Linked DNA regions of Homo sapiens. The protein of the gene in region 2 purifies or fractionates together with the protein of the main gene of each other region. This does not show direct contact. Each region holds a gene or a part of one and is shown on either strand. Other genes may lie near its edges.

The links.
Region 1: the proteins of NRK (region 2) and BLTP3A purify together in Homo sapiens (affinity purification with mass spectrometry, with the first as the bait; one large-scale study listed by BioGRID). This does not show direct contact.

What each region holds. Positions count from the first base shown.
Region 1 is NC_000006.12:34,798,583-34,802,082, reverse strand, and holds part of BLTP3A (bridge-like lipid transfer protein family member 3A), read right to left. Parts: intron 1-3,500. UniProt on the Homo sapiens protein: Tube-forming lipid transport protein which probably mediates the transfer of lipids between membranes at organelle contact sites. May be involved in the retrograde traffic of vesicle clusters in the endocytic pathway to the Golgi complex.
Region 2 is NC_000023.11:105,905,750-105,909,785, forward strand, and holds part of NRK (nik-related protein kinase), read left to right. Parts: intron 1-664; coding exon 665-840; intron 841-2,490; coding exon 2,491-2,554; intron 2,555-2,977; coding exon 2,978-4,036. UniProt on the Homo sapiens protein: May phosphorylate cofilin-1 and induce actin polymerization through this process, during the late stages of embryogenesis. Involved in the TNF-alpha-induced signaling pathway.

The DNA.
Region 1 (3,500 bases), on a different chromosome or scaffold from region 2:
CTCATGGCAGTTTCCTAAAATATTCACTATAGTTTAAAGCTGTGCAGGCCAGGCATGGTGGCTCACGCCTGTAATCCCAGCACTTGGGGAGGCCGAGGTGGGTGGATCATGAGGTCAGGAGATCGAGACCATCCTGGCTAACACGATGAAACTCCGTCTCTACTAAAAATACAAAAAACTAGCCAGGTGTGGCGGCGGGCGCCTGTAGTCCCAGCTACTCCGGAGACTGAGGCAGGAGAATGGCGTGAACCGGGAGGCGGAGCTTGCAGTGAGCCAGAGCTTGCAGTGAGCGGAGATGGCGCCACTGCACTCCAGCCTGGGAGACAGAGCGAGACTCCGTCTCAAAAAATAAATAAATAAATAAATAAATAAATAAATAAAATAAAGCTGTGCGATATTTTGTGCTTTTATGTAAAATAGAGTCTAAGCTCATTTAATCTATACAGTGGATTCAGCTACATAAACATCTAACGACATTCAAAAGTCAAAAAGGACAAGGGACAATGCTTCTTTATGTGAGATTATTCCATGTACTGCAGGACACGGCCCCCCATTCACCAAACGCTAGTCATGCCCCTCAGTCACTGTGACAACCAAAAACAGTCCTTGGTGAGATACAATGATCTAAAGGAACTTACTCCAAGGAATAGGAAAAAAAATACTTTTCCCCCCTCTCCCCAGCTCCTTCAAATATAGTTCCCTAACAACCAAGACCCAGAACTTAATATAGTAAGTTTATGTGGCTTTTGCAGGCTAACATAGGGAACTATTCAACATTACGTCACTATTTCTATTGGACTACACACTCCAAATTTCAAACTTAGAAATAACTGTTGGGAACACAGTAACACAGTGCTTCTATTAAGTCTGACTTAAATACATTGATTGCCATCAATGTCCTCCACAATTTTTTAAAATGATAGGCTGGAATCCAAGCTACATACAACCAATGCACTCTAAAGACCAAGCATACATGTAAAAAGATTGCTGTGTAGGCAAATGAAACAACAGTCAATTCAACAAATATTTTATAATATATCTAGGCCTAGCCAGATGCGGTGGCTGTAATCTCACGCCTGTAATCCCAACACTTTGGGAGGCTCAGGTAGGTGGATTACTTGAGGCCAGGAGTTTGAGACCAGCCTGGCCAACATGGTGAAACCCCATCTCTACTAAAAATACAAAAAATTAGCCAGGCACGGTGGCATGTGCCTGTAAACCCAGCTACTTAAGAGGCTGAGGCATGAAAATCGCTTGCACCTGGGAGGCGGAGGTGGCAGTGAGCCGAGATCACACCACTATATAAATATATCTTATTTTTGTGACAAACAGATACCAACTACATACCCTTTTACTAAGATATATTATTATTTTACACTTTAGTTTTCTGCTTTACTATAGATACTGATTGATTCTACTGGTTCTAGATACTGGGAAATGTTCTTTTCCAATATTTATCTGTATTCAGCACCGGTACTTTAATATCTGTGTTCACAACCAGTAGCAAATACTTGCCATCACCACACAGAGTTAAAAGGCCCCTTAAAGATACGGGATGAACTGGATTTCCTTGTCCTCCCCTCCCTACAACCCCCATTACTCCCCAAGTCTAAGGTTCTCTGAGTTCTGAATTCCAACCATGCATTCTCACTACATATATCTTCTCCCAATTTACCCACTCAACGCATCCTCAAACTCTCCGATTTCAAAGCAACCAAGACACACAATCCCTGCTGTTTTGGAGGACACATTACAGTGGGTATAGAGAACTGAGCTTTCTTTTCCGTGATTAATGCCATACCCAGATTATTCAACCAGGTTCTGTATTAAGTAAGGGTACCTAAATGACCTCTAATTTTTCACCCTAATAAAGTATATGTTATCTTCTTAGACGCTGTATAAGTAAATCCTCTAAAGGCCTAACCCAAGATACAAATTTCAGCTATTTCAGCTATGCTGAGGTCAAAGTTTCCTCCTTGAGGTATGCCTTGATATGAAAAAAAAAAAGATAAATAGGAACAACTTTGGTTTTCTCCTCAAGCATCAATGCAAAAGCATTAATCTCAACCTCTCTGTACTGAAAGACTAAGAAATGTGATTTCCAAATATCTAAATGTCTAAAGAATTAGACATCTGGAAAAGTCTGGCATAACCTTGAAGATAATGAAAAAAAAAAAAGTACTATCTCCAAAAACTAACAGTCGTCTCTCTTGAGCTACTCTAATAAGTAAAGATAAATTGTAATGGTTATTGTTTATGGAATACTTTTTCAGGACCAAGGAGATTTATACATTATTTCTAATCCTCAAAGCATTATGCGTTATTATGCCCATTTTACAGATGAAGAAATTGAAACTTGGAGAAGCTAAAAAACTTGCTGAATGTCTAGCTTAGAAGTAGCAGAGTCAAAATTCACAGCCACTTTTTGGAATCCAAAGCCTGGTTCTTTCTGCTACATTGACATGCTTCTCAATTTTTCGAAGCAGTTAATTTTCATTACTGTGAACCATATATTATGCTGTTGAATGTCAAATACATACTACAGTACTGCTTTGAAAATTTTATTGCTTTTAAATACTTTTTTTTTTTTTCCCAGACAGGGTCTCACTCTGTCACCCAGGCTGGAGTGCAGTGGCATGACCTTAGCTCACTGCAGCCTCAGCCTCCCAGGCTCAAGTGATCCTCCTGCTTCAGCCTCCCAAGTAGCTGGGACTACAGGTGTGAACCACCATGCCTGGCTATTTAAATTTTCATTTGTTTAATAAAGATAAAATGCTATGCCAATGGGGCAAGATTACAAAGCAAGTATGAAACTATTTCATTAATATCTAGGGTAGCCTAGGCCAGGTATGGTGGCTCACGCCTGTAATTCCAGCACTTTGGGAGGCTGAGGTGGGCGGATCACTTGAGGTCTGGAGTTCAAGACCAGCCCGGCCAACATGGTGAAACCCTGTCTCTACTAAAAATACAAAAATTAGCCAGGCCTGGTGGCGGGCACCTATAGTCTCAGCTACTCAGGAGGCTGAGGCAGGAGGATCACAGGAGCCCAGGAGGTGGGGGTTGCTGTGAGGCAAGATCATGGCACTGCACTCCAGCCTGGGCAACAGAGCGAGACCCTGTCTCCAAAAAAACAAACAAATAAAATCCAGGGTAGCCTAAAGATCAAATATTTACAAAAACCCAAATGCCTGGAGAATAGCCCCTCCTTTCTCTTAATGTACATGATTGTCATTTTGACAGAGGGCTGAGCATTACATCCATTCCAAGTAAGAAATGTTATAGGTTAATGGTCAGAAATAACCCTAATTATTTTCATTGTACCTTTGTAATTTGAACATTACTCCAAAAAAGATCTTATGCTTTCAAGGTTCTGATATATGCTTGTGACTAAAATTTTAAATACCTCAGAATCTAAAAACTGAACTGACAGCAAAAATAAAATACCTATCTTGTTTACCACAGACAAAGTAAAAAAAAAAAAAAAAAAAGAAAGAAAGAAA
Region 2 (4,036 bases):
TTACATGCCAGCTAAACTTGGGAATCCTTCTCTCTGAAGCTTGTTGATCTTGTACCTGAAACTCTTGCTTATTATTAGTTTTTATTGCTTTCCCTGGTAGAAGTGGTGACTGTGATTTGATTGTTAACATTCTGCATTGGAATTCAATTTAACCCTTTCCATGGATTCAGTTTTTATGGCCACATCTGTTTTCATGGGTCATTTTACAAGATTAGTTAGTCCTGGTGCTTTTAACATCCTATTTTTGGATCATTATATTCATTCCTCTGTAGTTAAAACTGCATATAGTCAAATGAAAAATACAGAGTATGACTGCTGTGGGCCGATCAATCTAGTCTTGCAGACTACATATATCACATTAACCATTTAATCATCATATCTGCACTTGAGTTTTTACCAGGTACATACAGTTAACTCATTGAAACTTCTACTGTAATTTAGATGGAATATGCTATTGACTCTTGCTTCTTTTTCTGAGGTCTAAATGGCCTCACTTTATAACGTATGTTGCCAAACTGCAGGATATTTGGCAATTGAGAAGACAATAATACCTAAAGGCAACTCTCTCCAAATATGATTTTCAGAGAGGCATGTGGGTGGTGGTGGGAAGAGGTCTGACAGGACTGAGAACACTTTTTTTTCCTCTCTTTGACTCATTTTTTAGGTCCCGTAAGTTCCACAATTTCATGGAAAAGTGTACGATAAAAAATTTCCTGTTTCGTCCTACTTCTGCAAACATGCTTCAACACCCATTTGTTCGGGATATAAAAAATGAACGACATGTTGTTGAGTCATTAACAAGGCATCTTACTGGAATCATTAAAAAAAGACAGAAAAAAGGTAGAATCTGTTAAGTTTTATTTTACTGAAATGAATATTCAGAGTTTATTCATGTATTGTTTCCAGGAAAAAGTAATATTTGTTTAAGACTTAGATTGAAAATAAAACTTCTGAGGCCTTTGATATTTAGTTTTGCCAATAATATGCCATGTGCTCTTATTTAATTTTCTCTTGCGTGTGTGTGTGTGTGTGTGTGTGTGTGTGTGTGTGTGTGTGTGTATAGTTACTAATTCTTGCCAGTTACACCTGGCAAATGTTCATATTTATGAAGACCTTGAAAGCATCCAATAAAGTTTTGTGATATGCCAATTTTAAGTAACTAACTAAATAAAATAAATAAAAGATAAAAGGTAACAAAATGTATATCTTGCTTTTTTTTCAGCTGGTATTTTGACTCTACAAGAGATAAATGGATTTGTAATTAACCATTTATTCACTGCTAATTTTGAAGTAGTATTTGTGCACCATACAAAGCTTGTTTTATGTACTAAACTCCAAATATAAAATATAATTAAAGGAACTGATTTATACAAATAAACATAAACTTCTGTCTATTAATAAAAGTGAACTTCTATTAAAAATGGCAGGATTTGCAGTGAGCCAAGATCATGCCACTGCACTCCAGCCCGGGTGACAGAACAAGACGCTGCCTCAAAAAAATAAAAATAAAAGTACCAGGATGGATTTTCACCAAGTCCAGAAGAAGCCCCTGGGAAGTCCTAACTTTATATATTATATTACATATTCCACATTTGATTTTGCGGACCATAGGCAGAGTTGAGAGTAACAATGGAATGTAAAAGGGAAAACTTGAAAAAGCAGGCATCCTCAGATCAGCTGTGGGATTGATTGTAGTGGGGCTTGTTGTATCTATACATGTATCATGTTTTGAGGCAAGGAGCAGCAAGAATTAATTTATTTACCTATGGTAATGAAGTTATTCAGCCAACTTTACAGAGGCCAGCCAGTTTCAAATGGGTTCAGGAAAACCACACATCTATATGGTAATTTGCTAATTTCCAGAATTGCAAAATTTCCAAAATGTTACCTGTAGGAAAAGTTCCATTTATATGGAAGTTACACTAAAGATATAAATATAGTTGCCCTGAACATTTTAATATAGGAAATTCAAAATAAAACTCTTGTTTGTAATCTTCTATATTTCAGTAGTCACAGTACAGCTGATGATAGGAAAGAAGCTGAATGTTTTCAATGTGTTTAGTGTAAAACACAGAATTAAGAATTTGCCTTCTCATTGAAAAGACCAAATATCAACCTCAAGCCATAAAGTCCTTACATCTAGAGCCCACAGCTGTAAGCCATGCTCACCACTATTTAGAGTTTCTCTTGTCTCATTCTCCCTTTGTCCCATTCTCTCTTCTTCCTCTTTAGAATTGCAGAAATCAAGTTGCTAAATTTTCTCTGTTCAGAGAAATTAATCTGCATGCAATAGCTATATTGTGCTGCAAAAGTGGGCCTAGAAACTAGAATATGGTCTACATCACAAACCAAGTACTTTTGAAGGGCTACCTTCTTGCCCTTGTAATTCACTCCACATCCTAAGAAGCAGAGGGAACAAGGTGATTAAGTGGATAACATGCTTATCTGCTGACTGTTTATGCATTATGTTTTTCTCTTTTGTAAAAAAAGGAATACCTTTGATCTTTGAAAGAGAAGAAGCTATTAAGGAACAGTACACCGTGAGAAGATTCAGGTGCGTTCCACAAATTGCATATATAATTTGATGATAGCAATTCACATAAGGCCGTTGATTCCATACTGTTGCCTTTGGTTCAGAAAGACTTAATTCTTTCTGATACAACAAATAACAAATCTCTGTTTTTAAGAGATATTGAGTGAAAATGTGAGAATTCTTTATTACTACCCAAAGACTCCTTAATATCTGGCAAGTGAAGATCAAGTAGATATCATATTTCATTAATAATTGAATACATTAGTAATACAAATGTTACCTGCAGAATATTTCAGACATCAAGGGAATGATTTCAGAAAGGTTTACTGAAGGTATCTTCATTGCAGAAAATGTCCATCTTTTAAAGTAAAAACAATGCCCCTGAATGGCTCCATTCCACTAAAAATTCTAATTGTATGCCAATCATTTGTGTGTTTATTTTAGAGGACCCTCTTGCACTCACGAGCTTCTGAGATTGCCAACCAGCAGCAGATGCAGACCACTTAGAGTCCTGCATGGGGAACCCTCTCAGCCAAGGTGGCTACCTGATCGAGAAGAGCCACAGGTCCAGGCACTTCAGCAGCTACAGGGAGCAGCCAGGGTATTCATGCCACTGCAGGCTCTGGACAGTGCACCTAAGCCTCTAAAGGGGCAGGCTCAGGCACCTCAACGACTACAAGGGGCAGCTCGGGTGTTCATGCCACTACAGGCTCAGGTGAAGGCTAAGGCCTCTAAACCTCTACAAATGCAGATTAAGGCACCTCCACGACTACGGAGGGCAGCCAGGGTGCTCATGCCACTACAGGCACAGGTTAGGGCACCTAGGCTTCTGCAGGTACAGTCCCAGGTATCCAAAAAGCAGCAGGCCCAGACCCAGACATCAGAACCACAAGATTTGGACCAGGTACCAGAGGAATTTCAGGGTCAAGATCAGGTACCCGAACAACAAAGGCAGGGCCAGGCCCCTGAACAACAGCAGAGGCACAACCAGGTGCCTGAACAAGAGCTGGAGCAGAACCAGGCACCTGAACAGCCAGAGGTACAGGAACAGGCTGCCGAGCCTGCACAGGCAGAGACTGAGGCAGAGGAACCTGAGTCATTACGAGTAAATGCCCAGGTATTTCTGCCCCTGCTATCACAAGATCACCATGTGCTGTTGCCACTACATTTGGATACTCAGGTGCTCATTCCAGTAGAGGGGCAAACTGAAGGATCACCTCAGGCACAGGCTTGGACACTAGAACCCCCACAGGCAATTGGCTCAGTTCAAGCACTGATAGAGGGACTATCAAGAGACTTGCTTCGGGCACCAAACTCAAATAACTCAAAGCCACTTGGTCCGTTGCAAACCCTGATGGAAAATCTGTCATCAAATAGGTTTTACTCACAACCAGAACAGGCACGGGAGAAAAAATCAAAAGTTTCTACTCTGAGGCAAGCACTGGCAAAAAGACTATCACCAAAGAGGTTCAGGGCAAAGTCATCATGGAGACCTGAAAAGCT